7 linked regions of the Homo sapiens genome follow. The protein of the gene in region 4 interacts with the protein of the main gene of each other region in a biochemical or structural test. Each region holds a gene or a part of one and is shown on either strand. Other genes may lie near its edges.

The links.
Region 1: the proteins of ARHGAP21 (region 4) and PALLD interact in a test that uses a peptide from one of them, tested with the Homo sapiens proteins (one large-scale study listed by IntAct).
Region 2: the proteins of ARHGAP21 (region 4) and DGKZ interact in a test that uses a peptide from one of them, tested with the Homo sapiens proteins (one large-scale study listed by IntAct).
Region 3: the proteins of ARHGAP21 (region 4) and TRMT13 interact in a test that uses a peptide from one of them, tested with the Homo sapiens proteins (one large-scale study listed by IntAct).
Region 5: the proteins of ARHGAP21 (region 4) and SLC22A12 interact in a test that uses a peptide from one of them, tested with the Homo sapiens proteins (one large-scale study listed by IntAct).
Region 6: the proteins of ARHGAP21 (region 4) and ATP2A2 interact in a test that uses a peptide from one of them, tested with the Homo sapiens proteins (one large-scale study listed by IntAct).
Region 7: the proteins of ARHGAP21 (region 4) and SLCO1A2 interact in a test that uses a peptide from one of them, tested with the Homo sapiens proteins (one large-scale study listed by IntAct).

Annotation. Positions count from the first base shown.
Region 1 is NC_000004.12:168,500,052-168,503,551, forward strand, and holds part of PALLD (palladin), read left to right. Parts: intron 1-3,500. UniProt on the Homo sapiens protein: Cytoskeletal protein required for organization of normal actin cytoskeleton. Roles in establishing cell morphology, motility, cell adhesion and cell-extracellular matrix interactions in a variety of cell types.
Region 2 is NC_000011.10:46,346,236-46,350,262, reverse strand, and holds the start of DGKZ (diacylglycerol kinase zeta), read right to left. Parts: upstream 2,801-4,027; 5' UTR 2,604-2,800; coding exon 2,443-2,603; intron 1-2,442. UniProt on the Homo sapiens protein: Diacylglycerol kinase that converts diacylglycerol/DAG into phosphatidic acid/phosphatidate/PA and regulates the respective levels of these two bioactive lipids.
Region 3 is NC_000001.11:100,143,163-100,146,662, forward strand, and holds part of TRMT13 (tRNA:m(4)X modification enzyme TRM13 homolog), read left to right. Parts: coding exon 1-47; exon of another isoform or gene 48-52; intron 53-906; coding exon 907-981; intron 982-3,364; coding exon of another isoform or gene 3,365-3,500. UniProt on the Homo sapiens protein: tRNA methylase which 2'-O-methylates cytidine(4) in tRNA(Pro) and tRNA(Gly)(GCC), and adenosine(4) in tRNA(His).
Region 4 is NC_000010.11:24,585,501-24,587,887, reverse strand, and holds part of ARHGAP21 (rho GTPase-activating protein 21), read left to right. Parts: intron 1-1,781; coding exon 1,782-2,387. UniProt on the Homo sapiens protein: Functions as a GTPase-activating protein (GAP) for RHOA and CDC42. Downstream partner of ARF1 which may control Golgi apparatus structure and function. Also required for CTNNA1 recruitment to adherens junctions.
Region 5 is NC_000011.10:64,597,720-64,601,219, reverse strand, and holds part of SLC22A12 (solute carrier family 22 member 12), read right to left. Parts: intron 2,705-3,500; coding exon 2,581-2,704; intron 2,413-2,580; coding exon 2,297-2,412; intron 1,545-2,296; coding exon 1,330-1,544; intron 854-1,329; coding exon 745-853; intron 486-744; coding exon 282-485; intron 1-281. UniProt on the Homo sapiens protein: Electroneutral antiporter that translocates urate across the apical membrane of proximal tubular cells in exchange for monovalent organic or inorganic anions. Involved in renal reabsorption of urate and helps maintaining blood levels of uric acid.
Region 6 is NC_000012.12:110,349,420-110,351,593, forward strand, and holds the end of ATP2A2 (sarcoplasmic/endoplasmic reticulum calcium ATPase 2), read left to right. Parts: 3' UTR 1-872; coding exon of another isoform or gene 873-886; 3' UTR 887-1,674; downstream 1,675-2,174.
Region 7 is NC_000012.12:21,296,918-21,300,417, forward strand, and holds part of SLCO1A2 (solute carrier organic anion transporter family member 1A2), read right to left. Parts: coding exon 3,431-3,500; intron 652-3,430; coding exon 487-651; intron 1-486. UniProt on the Homo sapiens protein: Na(+)-independent transporter that mediates the cellular uptake of a broad range of organic anions such as the endogenous bile salts cholate and deoxycholate, either in their unconjugated or conjugated forms (taurocholate and glycocholate), at the plasmam membrane.

The sequences.
Region 1 (3,500 bases), on a different chromosome or scaffold from region 4:
TGGGCCAAATAATTGAAACTTTTTCTGCTGCAGTTGTGGGTAATACAAACAATAAAATAGAAAAATAACATCTACTACATGGATTGTTCTGAGGATCAAACTGTTCACTTTTGAAAGCAGGTAACTTCCAAGCTGTTATGTAGGAACAACTTGCATTGTCACTGAATTCTTTCTACTTACTAGACTCTGCTCTTTCTCATGTATATTCCTTGTCTTCCCCAAGTTCCTCCACGTCAAAGAAATCTGTTGTAATTTCAACAGTCAATAGTGCCTTGATTCATGGGGATCATGCCAGGGGGTGGTCCCATAAGTCTTGTTTGTTTGTTTTTTGAGTCAGGGTCTCACTCTTTTGCCCAAGCTGGAATGCAGTGACCTGATCATCGCTCACTGCAGCCTAGAACTCTTGGACTCAGACAATCCTCCCACCTCAGCCTCTGGAGTAGCTGGGGCTACAGGCACACACCATCACACTCAGCTAAGTTTTTGGGTTTTTTTTTGTATTTTTGTAGAGATGAAATCTAACTATGTTGCCCAGGCTGGTATTGAACTCCTGGGCTCAAGCGATCTTCCTGCCTCAGCCTCCAACAGTGCTGGGAGTACAGATGTGAGCCACCATGCCCAGCCCCCTATAAATATTTCTTAACTGACAACATAGAGGATTCTCCCAAATATCATAGAGCTGGCTTTCAGGTAATCTATCCCCAAAAGTCAGCAACTTTAAAGGCAAATGGTAGTCATAATTTTTAAATTTGTCTATTTTTTCTATCATTTGTATATTCATATATGAATGTGAACCATATACATTTATGCCTATAGTACATATTCAGGATCTAAAAAATAAATGTTTTGCCAAATATTAGGATAGTCATGCCAAGATAAGATTCACAAAATTACTTATGTCAAATGTGTAATATACATACCAATGAAAACTTATTTATATGTTCTATATTTTATAGTATACCATGAATCTAACAGAATTCAGATGACACTAACTTAGGGAGAAGTTGCGAACCATAAAATTACAATTAAAATTAATCTATAAATTAAGTGACATAAAATTCCTTAAGAAAGAATGAAATAGCCAGGCCTGGTGGCTTGTGCCTGTAATCCCAGCAACTCAGGAGCCTGAGGCAGGAGGATTGCAGAGGCCAAGAGTTCAAGACAATACTGGGCAATGAAAGGAGACCCTATCTCTACAGAAAATAAAAAAGAATTAGCAGGACTTGGTGACATGCACCTGTAGTCCCAGCTACTTGGGAAGCTAAAGTAAAAGGATCCTTTGAGCCCACTAGATCAAGGTTGCAGTGAGCTATGATCACACCATCGCACTACTACAGCAGGGGCAAAATTGAAAAGAAAGGAAAAGAGAAGAAGAAGAATGAGATATGCCCAGGGAGTTAACAAAATAGGTCACCGTGGACATTTACCTTTGAAAGCAATATTTGCTTAGGATAAGCCAAGATGCTTATAAGGATATAAGCTGCCTGTTGACAATTCAAGGTTGATAGGATTCTGTAATGACTCACAATATTTGCCAACCCTCCCAAACCTTTGCTTCACCAAATGTTTGCTTAAGATGAAGAGTTTGGCATTAGGCACATGTTGAAATTCACCTGGGAGAATTTCCCTTCAGAGCGCCATGAGGTGACATGGCAGCTGCCCCCATGGTACACTCTGAAGGAACCTAAAGGACCATTGACCTGAGCATGTTCTCCTCTTGTGACTTTCACCACCCTCCCCGCCAAGGGTGTGCCCCCCAAAACAACAGTGGTCTGTAGATGTGAACATTAACATGCGAATGTGCACTTCATTTTATCTTATATGTCTGCACCCTAACAACTTTCAAAGCTAGTTTGAGGCTGTATGCAATAAAAGCATAGTACAATTGCCCAAAATCAATTAAGAAAATGCAGATCAAACCAAGTATAAAAAGCTTTGAACTTGAAATGTTTTCTCAATTTACTACCTTTGTCCTTTCTCTTCTTAGAATCTTAACTCCCTAGGACAGAGAATCTATCTTCTTTCCAGCTATGTCCCTGGCCTATGAAAGAGGTGCCTAGCACATAGTAGGCACTCAATAAATAAATGCTGACTGAATAAAACAATGAGAAAAGTAAGCAAAATAAATTTTTTTTTTAGCTAAAAACATCTGAATTTCTATGACTGGAAATTTAACCCTGAGCTTGCTAGTATCCGTGTGAAAGAGTCATCAAAGTTTACAGAATTCTTTGTCTAACAGAATTGCCAGAAAATAGAATAAATGCTTTTCTAGTTCCAAATTTTTTCATGAGAAACTTTCTTTGAGGGTAATGAGAAAGACTGACATCCACGTCTTTATAGATACTTTTTTTTAACACAATGTCTGACCTATGACTGATTTTGCTTTAGCGAAATGAGCAGGTAAAGTGTATTTTATATGTAGACACAAACAGTTATGTGTTATATGTATACACTAACATTTAGCACTGATTACTCTATCAAGTTTTTACCAGAAAACAGAGCCCGGGACACAAGCAACAGTTGATAAAACAGAAGAAAAACCTAGTTTAAGAGCAGAATAATGTTTAGCTGCACTCAGTGGCTCACATCTGTAATCCCAGAACTTTGGGAGGCCAAGGCAGGAGGAGCCCTTGAGTCCAGGAGTTTGAGACTGGCATAGGCGAAAAAGGGAGACCTCGTTTCTACAAAAATATATTTTAAAATTTAGCCAGGCCTGACGATGCACACGCGTAGTTCTAGCTACTCAGGAGGATGAGGCAGGAGGATCCCTTGAGCCCAGGAATTCAAGGCTACAGTGAGCTATGATCATGCCATTGCAGTCCAGGCCGGGAGACAGAATGAGACCCTCACTCAAAAGAGCAGAATAACACTTAGCTGAAGAGAGCATGTCCCAGAGAAATGTCGCAGCAGGTTCTGGGAGGCTGAAAGCAAATCAGTCATCAGAACATTTCCTGCCTCGTGCCTTTGTTCACATGTGTGTCAAATCCTATCCAGGGCTCAAACCACATTTCAAACACCCGGTATTTCTTAGCTTTTCTCCATCAGCTGCTGTAACCCAGTGTGCTAAGCATTTGCCATACAAAGACGCCAGTCACAGCTCCTGCTTCCATTGGGCTCACAGTTGAATGAGGAAAGCATTCTCTAAACAAATACTTGTAATTTAATATGATGACTGCTGTGAGAAACGCAATGCAAAGTAACATGCTTGGAAGAAGAAGCAAATTATATTGATTGGGGAACTGTTAGAAAGCACCAAAAAGTGGTAAAATTTAAGAAAGTTTTCAAGGATGAACCGGAGTTTGAAAAACAGAAAGAGGGCTGGATGCAGTGGCTCATGCCTGTAATCCCAGCACTTTGGGAGGCCAAGGCGGGTGGATGACAAGGTCAAGAGATCGAGACCATCCTGCTAACAAGGGGAAACCCTGTCTCTACTAAAAATACAAAAATTAGCCGGGCATGGTGGTGGGCGCCTGTAGTCCCAGCTACTCAGGAGGCTGAGG
Region 2 (4,027 bases), on a different chromosome or scaffold from region 4:
CTTGGCCCCATCAAGTCAAAGGGAAGGAGGCCAGCCCCAGTGAGCTCCCAGGCCTGCCAGGAGAAAGTGCTTTCCCTTGCTGCTCTCTGCCTGATACTACTGGGTTCTCTGAATGTATTCATTTCTGAAGGCCCCACTATCCCCAGCACAGTGCTCCCAAACAAAGGACACTCCTTACATGCTTCCAGAGGTGCTGCTGAATTTTCTTTCCTCTCATCAGGCATCCTATAAGAGCACTTACACTCCCCAGCGTGACGGACTACTGTGCTTCTCAAACTTGATGGGACATGAGAATCACCTGGGAAGCTTCAAACAATGCCCAGGCCCCACCTCCAGACCTGATGGGTCAGACACGCCAAGGGAAGATCTAGGAATCTGTATTTCTTAAAGCTCCCTTGGCCATTGTGATGTTCCGTTTGGGATCCTGGTATAGAGAAAGGGATGTGGATTTTGGAATCACACCAACTTGACTTCAAACCTTATCTCTACCTCTTCCTTGCTATGTGACTCTGAGCAAATCCCCTCTGACTGTGTTTCTTTCATCTATAAAAATGGAGAAACAGGCCAGGTGTGGTGGCTCACACCTATAATCCCAGCACTTTGGGAGTCCGAGGTGGGAGGACTGCTTGAGGTCAGGAATTCAAGACCAGGCTGGGCAATGCTGTGTGAGATCTCATCTCTACAAAAAATTGGTTTTTTTTTGTTTTACAAAAGGAAGAATACCACCTACCCTGCTTATTTTAGAGAATTACATAAAGGTATCTGTTGGTTCTCTGGTTTCTTGTTCTTCCTCCCGAATGTGCTCATCCCTATACCCACAAACCTGTGCCCTTCAGAAGGGGCACAGCCACAGGTCAGAAGAACCCAACACTTGATACCCTGTGGGCAGCAACAGGAAGCCTCTGGTGGCGCCCCTCCCTCCCCCTGCGGAGCCTGTGAATACTGGAGGCTACATCCTGCAGAGCTGGGTGTAAACTGCTCCATCTTGCAGGGCTGTGGGTGACAAAACAGAGCTACTGGAAGTTTCACTCCCTGCTCTGTTTTATATGACATTGAAGCCTGCGTGGTAACACAGGAGCCCACGGAGCTCCATCTGCCAGTGTAAGAATTCAGATCTGTGCATGTGCTCAGAGACAGAGTGCAGGTGCAAAGAGTGGGCCCTAGCCCGGGTGAGACGGGTAGAGGGCACAAGTCAGCATCACGGGTATGCTAGCCCACACGACAGGAGAAAACCGCCCATGTTATTGGTGGGTAAAGTCTACCCAGGGAAGGGGCAGAGCAAAGCTAAGGGGCGGGGTGGGGGTGAATGCCACCAAGTCTAGGCAGCTGCAGAAAAGTGAGAGGGAGGCCTTGGGCAGACTCCAAGTGGTCAGAGTTCAGTCTGAGGTGGCTCTGGGGTCCTTGGCTGATTGGCTACAAGCTCCTTGGCCACCAGGGAAGGGCAAGGCTCGGTCAGGAAGAAGCGCAGGGAGCCAGGTCAGGTACTCCTGGGGCCTCACGTCCCTTACCTTACACCACGGCTACCAGGGCAGGCAGCGGCTCACGACCAAGAGCAGCACACTTGCCATGAACTGCCTGCACTCAGTCTTTCCACACTCTCCCCCCGGTTCCCCGCTAGAGTCCTGGTCAAAGCTCTGTCACAGGCACAAGATGGTGACATTTGGAGTGCTGGGGGAGGGGGCAAGATGAAGCTTGAACAGCCAGCAGATTCCAGACTCCAGCCCACCCCATCCCTTTCCCAGCATGGGCTGGAAGAGGGTAGAGGGAGACATGCTGCCTGCCTAGCAGAGGGATGGGCTGGGGTCTCTCTGCTAATTAAGAGCAAGGTAGGGCAGATGATCAGGCACCCCCAACCCCAAGGAGAAGCTTAACATGTTAAACAATTAAACCAGTGACCAGAGCTTGGGGACAAGCCATGTGTGGTGACGGTATCAACGGGGCTACGTTCTGCAGATGCCACGCAGTGATGGTAGGCAACCTGGTCCCACGAAAGTCCAAAGGGCGGTGTGATCCCCACCTCAGTGGTGCCAGGAGGCTCAGAGAGGCCCTGTTCTATCAGTGCCAAGAAGGCGTGGGTGACCAGTCCTGGGGGCCCAACCTGCTTGTGCCGGGGGCTGGGGTGATTCCATCTTCCTGCTGGAGGGTTGGGAGCCGATCCTCCCACGGTACTACACATGAGGCGCACTAGACTGCCGGTGCCAGGGAATGACCCCCACCCGGTGACAGTGCCAAGCCGACCGATCCCGCCCGTGTCCCGGCCCTGGGGGATGACTCCCAGTGGGTGCCCACGCCAAGACGGCTCGTGCCGCCGGTGCCAGCCTCTCCCCGACTCAGTGTCAGTACCGAAGTGGCCCGGACCCCCAGTGGCCGAGGAATGTCCCCCGGTGAGGGAGCGGTAACCTGCCGGTGCCTCGGTGCCTGCCCCGCCGCCGCCCCGCTCACCTGTGCCCGAAGAGCCGCAGCCCCGGGAAGCGCCGCTTGTTGAGTCGCCGCGGCGCCTTGTCCGGCTCGGGACCGGCGTCGCGCTCGGAGCCGCTGGACGAGGCGGAAGCCGACTCGGAGTCGCTGCTCCGGGCCTCGGGGCTACCGTCCCGCGGCTCCATCCGGCCCTAGCCCCGGCCGGCGGAGGGCCCGCGGGAGACGCCCATGCCGGGCCGGCGGCCGGGGCTCAGCACGCCCGCTCCGCGCCGCCCGCCACCTCCATGGCGCGCGCTCGCTCCGCCCGCCCCGCGCCGCGCGCCCCCGCTCCCCACGCCCAGGTGCCCGGGAAGCCGCTGCCGCCGCCGCTCCAGGAAGTGCCGCCAGCCGCGGCCGCAGGACCCCGCATAGCTGGCCGGGCCGCTGCCTGCCCGCCGCCGAGCACGCCCCCTCGGCCGCACGGTGGCACCGGGCCCGCAGCGCCCTCTGCCGGACGCCCGCTGCGCTGCAGCCCGCTGGGGCGGTCCGAGGGGCGGGGCGACGAATGGGCGGGGCAGCAGAAAGCCCTGCCCCCAGCCCGGCCCGGCCCGCCTGGATGGGACTGAATCTCCCGGCCTGGCACACTCGCACTGCGCGCATCCAGACGCGCATCTTTCCTCCCCCGATCCCTCCGCTACCAAACAACTGCACGCTCACAAGTGTACACTCGCGAGGGCTGCTGTCACCACCTCCCCTCCGCTCTCGCACACCCTACTCATAGCCACTCACAATCTCCACCCATACCTCCTTGGCTCCCCCAAATCGCACCCAGGGGAACAAAAGTCACACAGTGCTCCCCATGCACGCAGAACAAACACATCCCTTACACAATTATGCCCACTCATTACTTAAACGAACACTTCCCACCCCAGCCTCTCGCACTCAGTGACCAAAGTCACTTAATGACTCGCACACACACCAACAAAGAACTCACAAGTTTCTCCTACAAAGTCATCCTTCCACAGCTATTCACAATGGTTTCCAACCTTCTCACCCAGGCCCAACACATCGCATTTTCCTGACATAGTATTCAACAGAACCTATAGATCTCATATGCTACGGGAATCACCTGCACAGCCCTTACACACTCACAAATACACAGAAGGACAACAGGTACCACACTCCCATTCACAAGCACACATGCCCACACAGAACACACACCTTTCTCCTACATACAAATACTCCCAGGACAATGGTTACCGGTTGCCACATCCCTCACACATATGTATGTGTGTGCATATGCACACACTCCCATCCAGAAATATACCTCACATGCACACACAAAGACACCCCACAATGCAGCCGAGGCCGTCCCCCTCCAGAAATGAGAGCAATTGGAACCCAAGCAGTCACCTGTAGGGGCACAGCCATCACACACACCGGGGCTGTTTCTGATGGCCCCCGCAGGGCTGACGAAGGGAGGCCAGGAGCTGGGAAGCATGGTCTTCCACCTCCCCAAACCCTACCACCCTGCTGCCCACACCAGCTGCCCACTACTTCTGTGTGCACGCCTCTCTGCCAAGCCACATCCTGTGTCACCTTCGCTTTCATCCTCCCCTCTTGGGTTCTG
Region 3 (3,500 bases), on a different chromosome or scaffold from region 4:
TTCAGTGTTTGAAAGACTTCAAATTGATATTCAACACTTGTGTTTGAGTAAGTTGTGTAACTTTCCATTGGTCTACAAATAAATCATAACTGTTTTAAACTCTGAGGTTGCTTAGAAATCCAATCATGCAGAACTGTGCTTCAGGGAAAACAGTCAAATCAATTCATTGTTAATATAGAATGTTTTATATAATGTTTTTAAATAGATGTAAATTGAATTAAGGTTGAGAATTTTAAAAATTTTCAGTATCAAGTGGAAATGAAGTGTTATATTAGGGAAGAGTTTAAAAGTTTTATAATATGTACTTCTGTTGTTTCTTTGTCCTGTTTAAATTAATTTTGAGTCTGTTCAAACTATAAACTAGCCTTCTGCCTGCAGTTAACGTGACTTTACCTAAACCATGAAAGAAAATGAGATATTTCTCTGCCTAGCTAATGTGTAAAAGATACTTCCTAGAATTTTAAATTGTACAAAAGAAGTCATCACTGTGGGATTCATATTCCATACACAAAACACACACAGACACATACACACACAAACTCCTCAATCAACCTCTGTAGTGCCCTTTTTATACCTTTTCTATTTTTCAGATTATCCAAAGAAAATAATGCAAACATATCTTTGCAACCTCTTCCATTCACCAATTTTAATCCAGCCATGAAAAGCAACCCAGCATTTGTATAGAAATCAATGTATTTAAAATTATTTAGCTGAATATATTAACTTTCTGATGTTATGAACCCTAAACAAGTTCTTATGTTATATGTTGGGTTCCATAAAGTGATAATTTTTGTTTGAGTCTCTTTCAGGCTAAAATTCAGAGACTCTAATTAGTTCTTTCTTTTGGAAGGCCACATTAATATGTACTTTATTTCACTAGACAGTTAATTCTCATTTCCATTTCAGACAAGATTCCTGTGCTAAGAGAAGAAAAACTACCTGTGGTAGGAATTGGAAAGCATCTGTGTGGTATGGCAACAGGTACGTAAACATACTGATAATGTTTACATTAATGCATTAAGTTTTGGCCTAACCTGGCCCCAACCATTTCAGTGGTCTCTTTTGAATAGATATCTTATGTTTACAACTCAATAATCTTTATAGAGCACTGGCCCTGTGCTTTATTAGATGCATAGCTTTCCTATTTATCTGCTCATATTGGCCATTTTGCAGGATGAATTAAGAGTTTTGTATGTAAATACTGCATCACATTAGACCTTAAAGTTCTTTGGGTTAAATTTCAACCAGAAAAGGAAAATAAGACCATTTATGGAAACTGTATGATTCCACCTAGAAGCTACTGATTTTTTAGAGTAGTTGCTTAGAAAGAACTCAGAAACCTCTTCTACTAAAAGACTATTGTGTTTCAGGATTCTGGGGAAAAAGAAAAAAATAAATGTTAGACAAAAAAAAAAAATCTAAGATGTCTTGTCTTAGCACTTTGATCCATCAGATCTAGCATGGTAAAGTGGAAACAGCATGTGCTTTAGAATCAGATAGTCTAGCCTTCAGCTTTGTTGTGTAACCTTGTCAAATTACTTAACCTTTCTGAGCTTTGGTTACCTCATCTATAAAACAGAGATACTAATATATTAATAATTTACCGGGTTGCATGTAAAGTGTCTGGCACATAATAGTGCTCAATAAATGTTAATTATTGTTACATCATCTTCCTAACTTTTGCTAGTTTCATCATCTACCCATATGGATTACTTGGAGCATCCATAGATATTATTCATATTGGCTGGAAATGGCATTGAGTACTATATATTTGTGTTGGCCTTCATAGTTTTTAAGACTATAGTCATGTACAACATAACGATGATTTGGTCAACAATGGACTCATATATGACAGTGGTCCTATAAAATTATACCATATTTTTACTGTACCTTTTTTGTATTTAGATACACAAATACCATTGTGTTACAGTTGCCTACAGTATTCAGTAACATGCTGTACAGGTTTGTAGCTTAGGAGCAATAGGCTGTGCCATACACCCTAGGTGTGTAGTAGGCTACACTACACCATCTAGGTTTGTGTAGTACACTCTGATGTTCCTACAATGATGAAATCGCCTAATGCATTTCCCAAAACATACACCAATAGTTAAGCAATGCATGACTGTACTTTTGCATACCTTATCTCATTTAAGCCTCATAAAAGTCTTCTAAAGTAAACCAGTTCCATCCCGGGGGTAGGAGGGAGTACACTCTTTTGACCTACAGTGGCCATTTCTCATGTTCCACATAATTTTTTCCCTTGATTCACTGTATCTGAATCCTCCTTTTGTCTCTGCTGCAGTTGCTTACCCTTTTTGAAATTCCATTTTCTTCTCTTTTGCGATACTCTTATTTCCTGGTTCTTCCCCTACATCTATGCCATTCTTCTGTTTATTTCACAGTCTCCTTCCACTTCTGTCCTTAAAATACTAATATTCAGGCCAGGCACAGTGGCTTATGCCTGGAAACCCAACACTGGAGGCTGAGGTGAGATGATTGCTTGAGGCTAGGAGTTCAGGATTAGCTTGGGCACATAGGAAGACCCCATCTCTACAGAAATTTGTTGGGCACGATAGCTTGTGCATGTAGTCCCAGCTATTCAGGAGGCTGAGGTGGGAGGATCACTTGAGCCTAAGAGTCTGAGTCTGCAGTCAACTGGGATAGCACCACTGCACTGCAGCCTGGGTGACAGAGCAAGACCCTATCTCAATCGGTCAATCAATCTCAGACCCATCTGCTACACAACTAATGTGTCTTTCCCTTTAAACTCTTCGGTACTTCCTGATATAGTCCAAACTCTTTGACATAACGTTTTAGTCTCAATCTGGCTTCAGCCTTCCTCTCTTTACATTCCCTGTCTCCTACTTTGCTGTTCAGCAACATCAAACCCTGTGTGCTTTTCCATAGACTGTACTATTTCTACTATATCTGGAATTTCACCCCCATTCACCTACTCACCCAAACAAAACAACTGGTCAATTTTTACTCATCCTTCACCTCAGTTGTCACCACTCTCAGGGAGCTCCCTTAAATAAGATATGCCTCCTTGGTGTTATCATAATACCCTCTGCATATTTTTACCTTGTGGTATTTTAATTATCTGTTTATATATCTAATTCTTCCACCATGCTCTGAATTTTTTGAGTATATGGTATATACTTAGTACGATGCTTGCTATATAACAGGAACACAGTGAATATTTGAATGAATGAATAATCTTGGCTACCAATTTGCTGTGTTTCCTTGTCCCTTTCTGCATATGTGGCTTTGTCTTTTAAGTTCTTTATAAAAGATGAATTGAGATAAATTGCTAAAGCTCCTTCTAATTCTGAAATAACTTAATTCTTTTTTTTTTTTCTTCGAGACGGAGTCTCGCTCTGTCGCCCAGACTGGAGTGCAGTGGCGCAATCTCGGCTCACTGCAACCTCCGCCTCCCGGCTTCAAGCGATTCTCCTGCCTCAGCCTCCCGAATTGCTGGGACTACAGACTCGTGCCACCAC
Region 4 (2,387 bases):
GATATCCCAATGACATGATTAACTACTTCTAACAAACAGTCTCTGTAGAAAAGTAGAGTAATTTGCCTCAACACATATATGATCATAGAATTGTAAAGAGAACCTTAAGGAAATCTGAAAGACAGTATAATCTAATTGCTTCTCGCCACGGAACTGAGATGTTTAAAAGTGAATCCCTTGCTCGTACCCAGCAAGCTAGAGAGGATGGACATCAAGGTCTCCCAATTGAGAGCCCAGTCACAACCATTATCCCCTACAGTCTTCAGCACAATGTGGGGAAATGTAAATAACCATTAGAAATGTGCTGGATAATTATGAAAGTCTTTATAACTTGTAAAAACAAAGTTCTGTTCATCTGTGATTTCATCTTAGCGAATTTTTGATAGAACAGCCTAAATTCTTTGATAGAACAGCCTAAATTTTTACTTTAAGACTTTAAATAGAGCAGTTTTAACTTGTCTAAGATTTGCAGGCAATAGAGAAATATACTGTCTGTTTCTATTACTCAGCATACCTCCTGCCTACCTGCTTGTCTTAAAAAGTGTGTGGTAAACCAGCAGATATTTAGGAAGAAACTAATAGTTGCAATCAAGAACCTATTATATCTAGATGCAGTGGCTCATGCCTGTAAATCCTGGCACTTTGGGAGGCTGAGGTGGGAGGATAGCTTGAGACTAAGGCTTCTAGACCAGCCTGGGCAACATGGTGAAACTCCATCTTAAAAAATTTTTTTTAAAAGAACCTATTATACATAGCAAATAACTTTCCCAATAACACTGCACTACAGTGTTTCTGTGGTAAGGATTTAATTGTACTTATGTTAATTGATCTTTCCTTTCTACCTTCCTGGGGTGGGTTCTCACTCTGTCACCCAGGCTGGAGTGCAATGGTACCCTCATGCTCACTGCAGCCTTGACTTCCCCAGGCTCAGGTGATCCTCTGACCTCGGCCTCCCAAGTAGCCAGGACCACAGGTGCGTGCCACCATGCCCACTTAATTTTTTGTAGAGACAGGCCTTCACCATGTTCCCTAGGCTGATCTCGAACTTCTGGGCTCGAGCAATCTGCCCGCCTCAGCCTCCCAAAGTGCTGGGATTACAGGCATGAGCCACCACACCTGGCCTGTTTTTTGAATATTCTAATTCCATTGTTACCTTGAGATAAATGAAGACATTACCAACCTGATTTACTTAAGGCAGATCCTTGAAGATCCTGCCTGAATGAACTAATGGAAGACCAGAGTTCCCTTATCTCAATGAGCTTATCTGATACAGTATCTATATCATGTGGTACCTGTAATTAGAAAAATCAAAGTCAGTCATAAACATTTAATAACCTATATCAGAATGTGATGTTTAATAACCTATATCAGAATATGATGTTTGACCGTGTCACAATATTGTTTTACCTATCCCATGCCTCTATTCCAAATGAAGGAAGTGAAGAATGCCTGGGCACTGTGGAAGGAGGGAAGGTCAGGTGTTTGGGGGATTTTGATAGGAATCAGCACTAAGCACAGACTATTTTCCTGAAAGGCAGATGTGTATGAGCTGTGGCTTGGCAGTTAAATACCACGAGGCAAGAAATTGGACTCATTAAATAAAAATTTGACTTTGGTTCAAGGTAAAAAGAGGTATTAAAAAAAAAGCTAATTGCACTGTTAATGCTTCCAGAGCTTTAGTAGATATAATTTGATAAGAAATATTTGGGAGACAAGCTTGTCAGAAAATGAACTCAGCTGCATTCTTATGCTCAGAGTCTTTCTTCTCTCTTGCTTCCCAGGGTTCTTGGGGATCTGGAAAGGATCAGTATAGCAGGGAACTGCTTGTGTCCTCCATCTTTGCAGCTGCTAGTCGCAAGAGGAAGAAGCCGAAAGAAAAAGCACAGCCTAGCAGCTCAGAAGATGAACTGGACAATGTATTTTTTAAGAAAGAAAATGTGGAACAGTGTCACAATGATACTAAAGAGGAGTCCAAAAAAGAAAGTGAGACACTGGGCAGAAAACAGAAGATCATCATTGCCAAAGAAAACAGCACTAGGAAAGACCCCAGCACGACAAAAGATGAAAAGATATCACTAGGAAAAGAGAGCACGCCTTCTGAAGAACCCTCACCACCACACAACTCAAAACACAACAAGTCACCAACTCTCAGCTGTCGCTTTGCCATCCTGAAAGAGAGCCCCAGGTCACTTCTGGCACAGAAGTCCTCCCACCTTGAAGAGACAGGCTCTGACTCTGGCACTTTGCTCAGCACGTCTTCCCAGGCCTCCCTGGCAAGGTTTTCCATGAAGAAATCAACCAGTCCAGAAACGAAACATAGCGAGTTTTTGGCCAACGTCAGCACCATCACCTCAGATTATTCCACCACATCGTCTGCTACATACTTG
Region 5 (3,500 bases), on a different chromosome or scaffold from region 4:
TTGGCCTCTCTCAGGGTGGACCTGGGGGAGCTTGTCCATTTGTGCCTTGAATGGTGGAGTGAAAGGCAGAGGACAAAGCCCTAGGTCAAAGCACTGCCAGCCGGAGACTGAGCCCTGGGTTGCCACTCTCCCAGAGATGTACTGTGTGACTCTGGGCCAATCCTATCTGTCTGGGCCTCTGCTTCCGCCTCTGTCAAGTGATGGGGATGGGTGAGCAGGCTGCCCTGTGCTAGGGTTCTCTGGTGGGAGGGAGGGGTGGTCCCGAGGCTGGGTCCACTCACTGGTTCTGCACATCTTGGATGGTGTCGGGCAGCGGCAAGCTCTGGGTCTCGGGCAGAAGCAGTGCGGCCAGGCCACTCAGCACTGGCACCGTCCCATACACCAGCAAGGGCAGCCAGGGGCCATGGACACCCAGCAGCCGGACCAGAGGCCCCAGGATGGCTCCTCCACGGGCTGCCATCTGGCCCAAGCCCACTGCCGTCATCCTGCCAATGCAGATGCACCTATAAGCGCCTGGTCTGTGTGCCCACAGCCTTGATCCTGCACGCCGGGCCAGGCCCGCTTGGCCCAGGGAGACCCAGGGGGTCAGGCTGGGCTTGGGATGCACCTGAGCAGCCCCGGGGACCACACAAGAGGGAGATGCATGACATGAACATCTAGGTCTGGGAGAAGCCAGTCCTGCCTGGGGGTGCCCCGCAGCTCAGCCCAGGGCTCCCCTCTCCTGGAGCCCAGGCCCAGCCTCACCTGAGCACAGTGGGGAAGAGCTCGCTGCTGTAGATGGTGATGCAGGTGAAGGCAGCCCCCACCCCGCCCAGCCCCAGCACGGCCAAGGCTGAGCGCAGAGCCCCCATTTCTGTGGGTAGAGATGGGATTAGTGAGCTTGGTGGGGGGCCCAAGATCAGATGAGGGCTCCCTTCAGCCCAGGGGGCTTGTCCCTGACTTTCAGGCCTCTTTGTAAATGTTTGGGAGTCATCTCCATCTGGGTATCCTGTCCTGAGTGGCCTCATGGCCACACCCACAATCTGCTCCACGCTCAGACACCCAGAGCCAGCCCCGAGGAGTCCTTCTTGACCCCGTTTCCCTCCTCCTGCAATCCATCACTTAGTTCTCATTTTAACTCCACACTTTTCCCTGGTGCCACCCATGCCACTCCTTCACCGCTCTTGCTGGCTCAGTGCAGACACTGCCGTCTGTCCCTAGACGGCTCCGGCAGCCTCCTTCCTACCAGGGTACCTGCTCTAGTCCAGCACCTCCAAGGAGGGGTGCTGTTCCCAGCCCGAGACCCCCCCAAGGTAGGGAAGTCTCTGGTGTACAGCTTTGCCCCCTCACCGTGGGGCACCAGCGTGTTGGCCAGAATGCAGAGCCCTGCCAGCAACAGGGATGCGGCCAGCGTGGGGCGGCGGCCCAGGTGGCTCAGCAGCAGCAGGGCGCCCATCTTGGCTGGGATGTCCACGACACCAATGAACATTTGGAGCAGGAAGATGTTGCTGCCCAGGGCCTGCAGGTCCAGGGCCAGGCCGAAGAAGGTGAAGCCAAAGGCGAACCTGGGGCAGGGGTCAGGGAAGTCAGGGTGGGGGTGGGGGGTGGGGGGGGGTGGTGGGCAGGGTGGGAACAATGGGCGGTGGGGGCTCAGGGTGGGGGTGTGCTGCTCTTAGCTCAGTGTTCTGGCCCTTCAGCTGCCAGCTCTGTGGGGCGGGGCCAGTCTCTAGACTATGTTTATCAGGTCCCCTTGCCAGCATGGCTTCCCTTTGGGTTTGGCTGATGGGAGGTGCTGGCAAGAGGTTGGAGGAGGGGAGAAGCAGGGGATTTCTGCCTCCCTCTCTGCTTGGGGGCTTTGTCTGGGAGTGACTATGTCCCTTCCGTGGCTCCAGCTGCCACTGAACAGTCCTTCCCTCCTTGGCCTTGGCGGTTTTGGTCTTTGCTGGATGGCCATGGGTCCTGGGCTCTGATAAGCCCTCTCCGCCCTCCCTGGCCCCACACCAGGCAGGGGTGCTTGCGGCCCATGCTGTTGCCTGGATCACCCCTTCGTCATGCCTGGCTCCCAGCCCTCCCAGGAGCTTTGTTAGGGATCCTACCTACTGCATCTCTTTTATCTGCCTTGCCCCTTATTAAGGCCCCCTCAGTGAGCCCACCCGGCCTGGGTTGTCTCCTGTCGGGAGTGACTGACAGAGGGGAAGGTGTCGGTGTTGCAGGCCAGTGGGACCAAGCGGAGCCAGCAGAGGCCGGGGCCGTGTGCCAGCGAGAGCCCCGATTCCAGGTTCCCCTGTGGAGGTGGGGTTGGGGGAAGGGCATCTACCAGCACAACGTGGAGATACAGGTCCGGAAGCGCAGTCCGGGCATGCGGAGCAGGGTGCCCAGGCTGGCAGGAGGCTGGCCCATGCTCAGCTCCTCCCGCATGGCTGAAAGCAAGACCTGTGGAGGCGGGGGTGGGTGCTGTTGGCACTGGGGGCGCCAGGCACCTCCTCCTCTCTGAGACCTTCTTCCCAGGGAGCTGAGGTCCTTGGTGGGTCTCCCAGGGTGCCCTATGCAGGGGCAGGGAGAGGGTCTGAGGGTCCGGGTTTGAGGAGGACCCAGCCTTACCTCAGGGGTCAGGGTGTCCTGCACTGCCCCCTTTCCGTTGATGGCAGCCACCCTCCACAGCTCCTGCAGGCCCCAATCCAGCCTGCCTGTGGTGAGGAGCCATCGTGCCGACTCTGCCAGCCACCTTAAGTGGAGGGGGCGTGGGAGGGGTCATTGCCTGTGGCCCCCAGTGCCTGGCCTGCGCCAGCCTCAGACTGCTACCCTGTACCCACTGCTCCAGGCCCAAGGCTTAGGGCGGCTGAGGACCCCGAAGGGCGTTGTGGCAGCCAAGCCCTCTTGGGCACCCTCCTTCCCCAGCAGGAGACCCCTTCTGCTGCCTTTCTCCCTCCTAGGGATTGTGGTTGGGATGCTGTTCTCATCCTGGGGCTGGCTGCTGGGATGGAGGGAGGGATGACTCTGTGGAACCCTTCCTGCCTCCCTCCAGACCCCACAGCCCTTCCCCTGCCTCGCTAGGAACCCGGCCTGGTTGCAGTCAGGGCCCCTAGGGCTACAGGACCACTGGATCCTGGCCACTGCCAGGACCTTGGCCATCTCCAAGGCGACTGGGGTCCACCCCTGTCCTGGCACCTCCCATACCACATGGCCTTCCTGTCCACCCCATGGCTGCATCTTCCTCCTGCAAACAGCTTCACAGCCACCCCGGGGCTCAGGCTGGGACCAGGGTCCCCAACAGCACCAGCGCCCTCTGGCCGCACCCTGTCAGCTGATTCCCACACCTCCAGGACCCCTCGCACCTGAGTCTCTGCTATCTCGGCCTCATGAGCCCAGCACCTCCCCTCCTTGTGGCAGGACCCAGCCCCTCACACTGACCTGTCTCCCACTACCCTCAGTGTCAAACCGAGCTTATGCCACACCGTCCCGCCCCGCCTGCTGAGCGCCTGCCATGCCCACCACTCTACACGGGGCCTGCCTCTAGGCCT
Region 6 (2,174 bases), on a different chromosome or scaffold from region 4:
TTGGCCTCTCTGAGCTTTGCCCAGAAGACCAACAATCATACATACCCTAACTGGGACACCACTCTGCAGAATGCAGATGATCCATTCTGGAGGAAGCTGTCCCTTGAGCTCAGTGAGCTCCCAGGCAAGCAGGGCATCTGGCCGACTTCCCTCACAACAGCTGCTCCCACATCCCCTCGGACTGGAGCTTCAGCCCTGACTGAGGTGGGCAGACCTAAGACCTGAGACCACAAGATTAGCTCAGTGTCTACCAAGCATCTAGCCACTGTCCAGGGCCAGAGCATACCACGTCTGCAGTGCCTGTGAGCAGAGCCAGCAGTTGCCCTGTGACTGTAACCACCAAATTGTCCAAACACCCGCTGCAGTTAGCAAGAAGGGTAGGCTTCACCCTCCTTTACTGAGGAGAATGATGCGGAGGAGTTTCCTCTCCAGGGCTAGGCAAGGCAGGCGAGCAGCCAGAAGCCGGGTGCCCACAGGGCAGGGACAGGAAGGCTGTGCTGCTACTGGCTGCTCACTTCTCCATCAACCTCACCCTCTGCACCACTAACCAAGACCTTGTCCTCTTGCCTGTCTCGCTGCTTTCACAGCTGCAACGATTGTGTCTGCCTCATGGGGTTTTCCTCCAGAGCCTTTATTCTGTAGCCAGACGACACGAGGAGTCTGTGTCACTGAGCCAGTGCTTCTAGATGCTACCCTGTGTGGGCGGCACCTCAGGGACAGTAAATCAGAAATGCTGGTCTTGAAACCTTGAAAAGATCAAGCTGAATGTTCCTTTTCATCTGTCGCTGTTGATCTTCATCTATTTAAATAGGTATTCTAACGTTTCCTCTCTGTATTTCATGAAGCTGATTTCCTCTCTCTTTCCTTTTCAGCAATACTGGAGTAACCGCTTCCTAAACCATTTTGCAGAAATGTAAGGGTGTTCGGTTGCGTGCATGTGCGTTTTTAGCAACACATCTACCAACCCTGTGCATGACTGATGTTGGGGAAAAAGAAAAGTAAAAAACTTCCCAACTCACTTTGTGTTATGTGGAGGAAATGTGTATTACCAATGGGGTTGTTAGCTTTTAAATCAAAATACTGATTACAGATGTACAATTTAGCTTAATCAGAAAGCCTCTCCAGAGAAGTTTGGTTTCTTTGCTGCAAGAGGAATGAGGCTCTGTAACCTTATCTAAGAACTTGGAAGCCGTCAGCCAAGTCGCCACATTTCTCTGCAAAATGTCATAGCTTATATAAATGTACAGTATTCAATTGTAATGCATGCCTTCGGTTGTAAGTAGCCAGATCCCTCTCCAGTGACATTGGAACATGCTACTTTTTAATTGGCCCTGTACAGTTTGCTTATTTATAAATTCATTAAAAACACTACAGGTGTTGAATGGTTAAAATGTAGGCCTCCAGTTCATTTTCAGTTATTTTCTGAGTGTGCAGACAGCTATTTCGCACTGTATTAAATGTAACTTATTTAATGAAATCAGAAGCAGTAGACAGATGTTGGTGCAATACAAATATTGTGATGCATTTATCTTAATAAAATGCTAAATGTCAATTTATCACTGCGCATGTTTGACTTTAGACTGTAAATAGAGATCAGTTTGTTTCTTTCTGTGCTGGTAACAATGAGCGTCGCACAGACATGGTTTCAGGTAAATAAATCTATTCTATGATAAATTCTCAGTGTGGTGGTGACTGTTCTGTGGGAGGGGGACTGATGGGCACCAAGGGCCTCCACTCCGCACCCGGGCCTGCCCCTCTACAGGGAAGCAGGGGAGGCTCAGTCTGGGCAGGGTGGCCATGTGACTAGAGGGGACAGGAACCTCTTGGACTCGACTTCACAGTAGACAGGCTGACTGGCAGCAGGTCCGCCCATGTGAAGCCCACCCTGGCTCCCTACCCTTTAAGGATGGGGGAAGCTGAGTGTGTGTTACCAGTGGGGTCTTAAACACACAAGGCCTCACTCGTCAGTGTGGTGAAGAAAGCCAAGACTCCGCGCTCTCCATTGTTAGCAGCCTGGAAAGATCTGGAGACTAGCAATGGAGAGATGTTTCTTAGGCTGTTCAGATCCAAAACTTCCACATTCCCCGTTGTTGATAGGTATGGGATGGAGAGGTGAACAGAACTGAAGCAGCTGTTGGAATTCATTTGCTGGTTACTTTAGTGCTTATTTGGCA
Region 7 (3,500 bases), on a different chromosome or scaffold from region 4:
AAACCACTGAGGTTAGTGTGGTTGCAGGAAAAGCCGAATGTGTGTGGCTGCAGAGACACCTAAAACCACTAGGGGGACCAAAAAATTAAATTAGGAGGAACATAGAATCCTTGAACTGGAACCAAAAAGAGTAAAATTTGGTAGTAAAATGCACAATCCTATCTGAAAATATGTAATTTTTGCACTCCCAAATATTTGCATTCATATTATGAATTCACATTCTGACTTCAGAGAGAAGAAAATCAAGGTATTTCTGACCTCTTCCCTTCCCTACCCTTTCTTTCTTTCCTTCTTTCCTTCCTTCTTTCCTTCCTTCTTTCTTTCTTTCTTTCTCTTTCTTTCTTTCTTTCTTGAGATTAGAAGGAAGAAATCCACCAGAGTCAAAAAATATCCTAAAACACTTCAACTTAGGAGTTTGCTACACCCGCCATCACACTGTTCGTGGGGGGGAAAGTGTGCTAGTAAGGCAGAGAAAAACAAACATACCCATTAGAAAGATTGCATCTGAAGATGATATTCCATATTGCTGTTCTAGGTATTTAGGCATGAAGGAGATCATGTTAACGAATGCATTGAACTGTATCACACTTACAAGTATGAAAAGCATATAAATTGGATTGCAGGAAAGACTTTTCATGAAAGGTAGAAAATCTGAAATGAAAGAATGACAACTGTGTCAAACGAACTTGGCTTTGCATTTTGTGACTGGCTTTTCCTGAAACATCCACCTCCTCAACAAATTATGTTTTTTACTATTTTGTAATATGTATTGTTTGCTAATTCTTTTTTCCCCTTGAAAGCTGAAGTCATAGCAATGTTTTGGTGGCTTCTGGAAGTCAGTGATGTAGCTGACTGGGTAGGGATCAGAACACAACAGTTTTGCCCTCAATAAGTCACTGTTGAGTCTTAAAGATCAGTAAGCAAAACTACAAAGTGACCAAAATATTGTCTACGTCCACAGCATTTTATTACTAACCTTTTGTTCTTCTATTAATATATTCTTTTTTCTACAGCTCATTAGAATGAAAGATGCTTGTTCTGTTCTGTAAAGTCTGGAGGAAAATCGAGTTGATAAAGAAGATTTCACACAAATATTTATTTTATCACTCCCTGAACATTTGAAATAAAGATGTGTGGGAATTAATGAGATATGAATGTTCTCAAGTATCCGGAATTTTTTTTTGCTTCTTCAGAACAACAGTTTCAGTGGTTCTGCCATTGGTTCTCAGCAAGATCTACCTGGAGATATTTTTTAAAATACCAACATCCAGGTCCCATCCTCAGAGATGCTGATTCATTTGGTACATTCTAAGGACTATGTAAATGATTTAATCAAAAATGATTCCTGTTAGAAAAAGCACAGAGCCAAATGTGTGGCCTGCCTCTAGTAATGTTTGGCCTGCTTCTAGTAATGTGTGGCCTGCCTCTAGTAATGTGTGGCCTGCTTCTAGTAAATGTTCTTGGTCACACTGCTACCATTCAGGCTCAAGTTCTCACTTTTAATTTCCTTTCACTTTTCCTGTCCACATGTTCTCTGTCTTGACTTTCTTATGCACAATCTTGGTTTGCTTAATAAACTGCTCACAATTCATTCTGGAACAAAATTTCAATAAATAAACAATTTAGAAGAGGAGGACACACAGATTAATGCAAGTAAATGAGTTATAATTGTAAAATTTATATTTATGAATAGGGTACCTGACAGGAGAGAGAGTTATCTGAAGATTTTTAAGTCACCCATGTTTGTTGACATCCCTGTCCTAATAGATGAGTTTCAGTAGCACAAGTTTCTTTTCTATGTCTTGCAACAAGCTAAGCTCTTTCCTAATTTTGAAAATGGAACTGATCTTGCAGACTGCAAGAGGTCTATCAGTCCATAACAATCCTTTAAGAAGAGTTTTTAATATCATCAGAATGATTCTGAGAATTTGCAAGATTCTGAGTTGGCTCCTAATGACCAAAGATGTATTAAATTATGCTCAATTATGATTTAAGAGAATTTACAATTGTTAAGAAAAATTCTATGCAAATTGACATTGTAACTTATGGGTGATGATAGAAACAACAATGACAACATAAAAGTACTAACACTAGTATCAGTATTAATAATAATGTGTGCTAGAATGTCTTTTACCTTCACACAACAATTCTATAGTAAGTACTATTATTATCCCCATTTGACAGAAAACTGAGACCCTCACCATCCGTCAAATAAACATTTTTAAGTTCCAATAGCCAGGCTGCACATCCACACTAATTAAATCTGACCTTTTGGGAATACTACAGAACTTTCAGGCATCAATCATTTTTAAAATTTCCTAGGTGATTCCAATGTGCAGCCAAGTTTGAGCATCAGTGCTCTTGAGTACTAAATACTTAGGCTATCTTAGTTTAGTTTCCCACAGAAAAACCTTCTGTAAATTATACTTTGAGCTTTTATTGAGGTTCTGTACCAAAAAAAATGTTACATGCAATTTACCCTTTCATTTGCTGGAAAACCACTATGTGGCTCAATATTACCTGTATCATGTATCTTATGATCATTTTTAAATTTTTTTACAATTTCTTCCTTGGAGAACTGCTTCTGTTTAAAAATTATTATTCTTCCCTCTACCAAGTATAGAGAGGTGGGTCACCGATCATGTTTTTTTTTTTCTTTCTGATTTAACTTCCAGGAAGCTCTTCGTTAAACTAACACACTGGTTACAAAACTATACTACCTATTAAGATTAGAGTATACTTTTTCCTACTTTTGTTCTTAGTTTAAATTTGCTTGTTCATTTTGTTTCAATTCAACCTATGTTCTCTGTAAAATCGGTTTTTTGAGCAAATGGGACCATATATATACGTGTGTATATATATATATATATATACACACACACGTATATATATACACACACACATATACACACACATATATGTGTATATATATACGTGTATATATATATACGTGTGTGTATATATATATACGTGTATATATATATATACGTGTGTGTATATATATACATGACCCTCTCTCTCCTCTCTCTCATATATATATGTGTGTGTGTACATATATATGTGTATATATGTGTGTAGATATATGTGTGTGTACATATATATGTGTATATATGTGTGTATATATATATGTGTGTGTACATATATATGTGTGTGTATATATATATGAAAGAGAGAGAGAGAGGAGAGTGCCAAGACTGACATAAAAGTTTACACAAATGCTGATCTGAAATATTTCAGCTTCCAAATTATAATATTTATTTTCAAGTAGTACCATAGGAAGAATCGGACTAGTTAGGTATTCTTGACTGGTGACTGTTGATGACAAATTGTCTCAACACAGCATAGCATATCATAGTGTTAGACTAAAATACAGACATATCTATATGAAATAAAAGGTCAATTTCATAGTATTTAGAATATGTATATTTGCCTTTAGTGATTCCATATTTTTCCTTCTTGACCTCTTCTTTTTGTTTGTCTTCATTTTCATTTTTAATGAT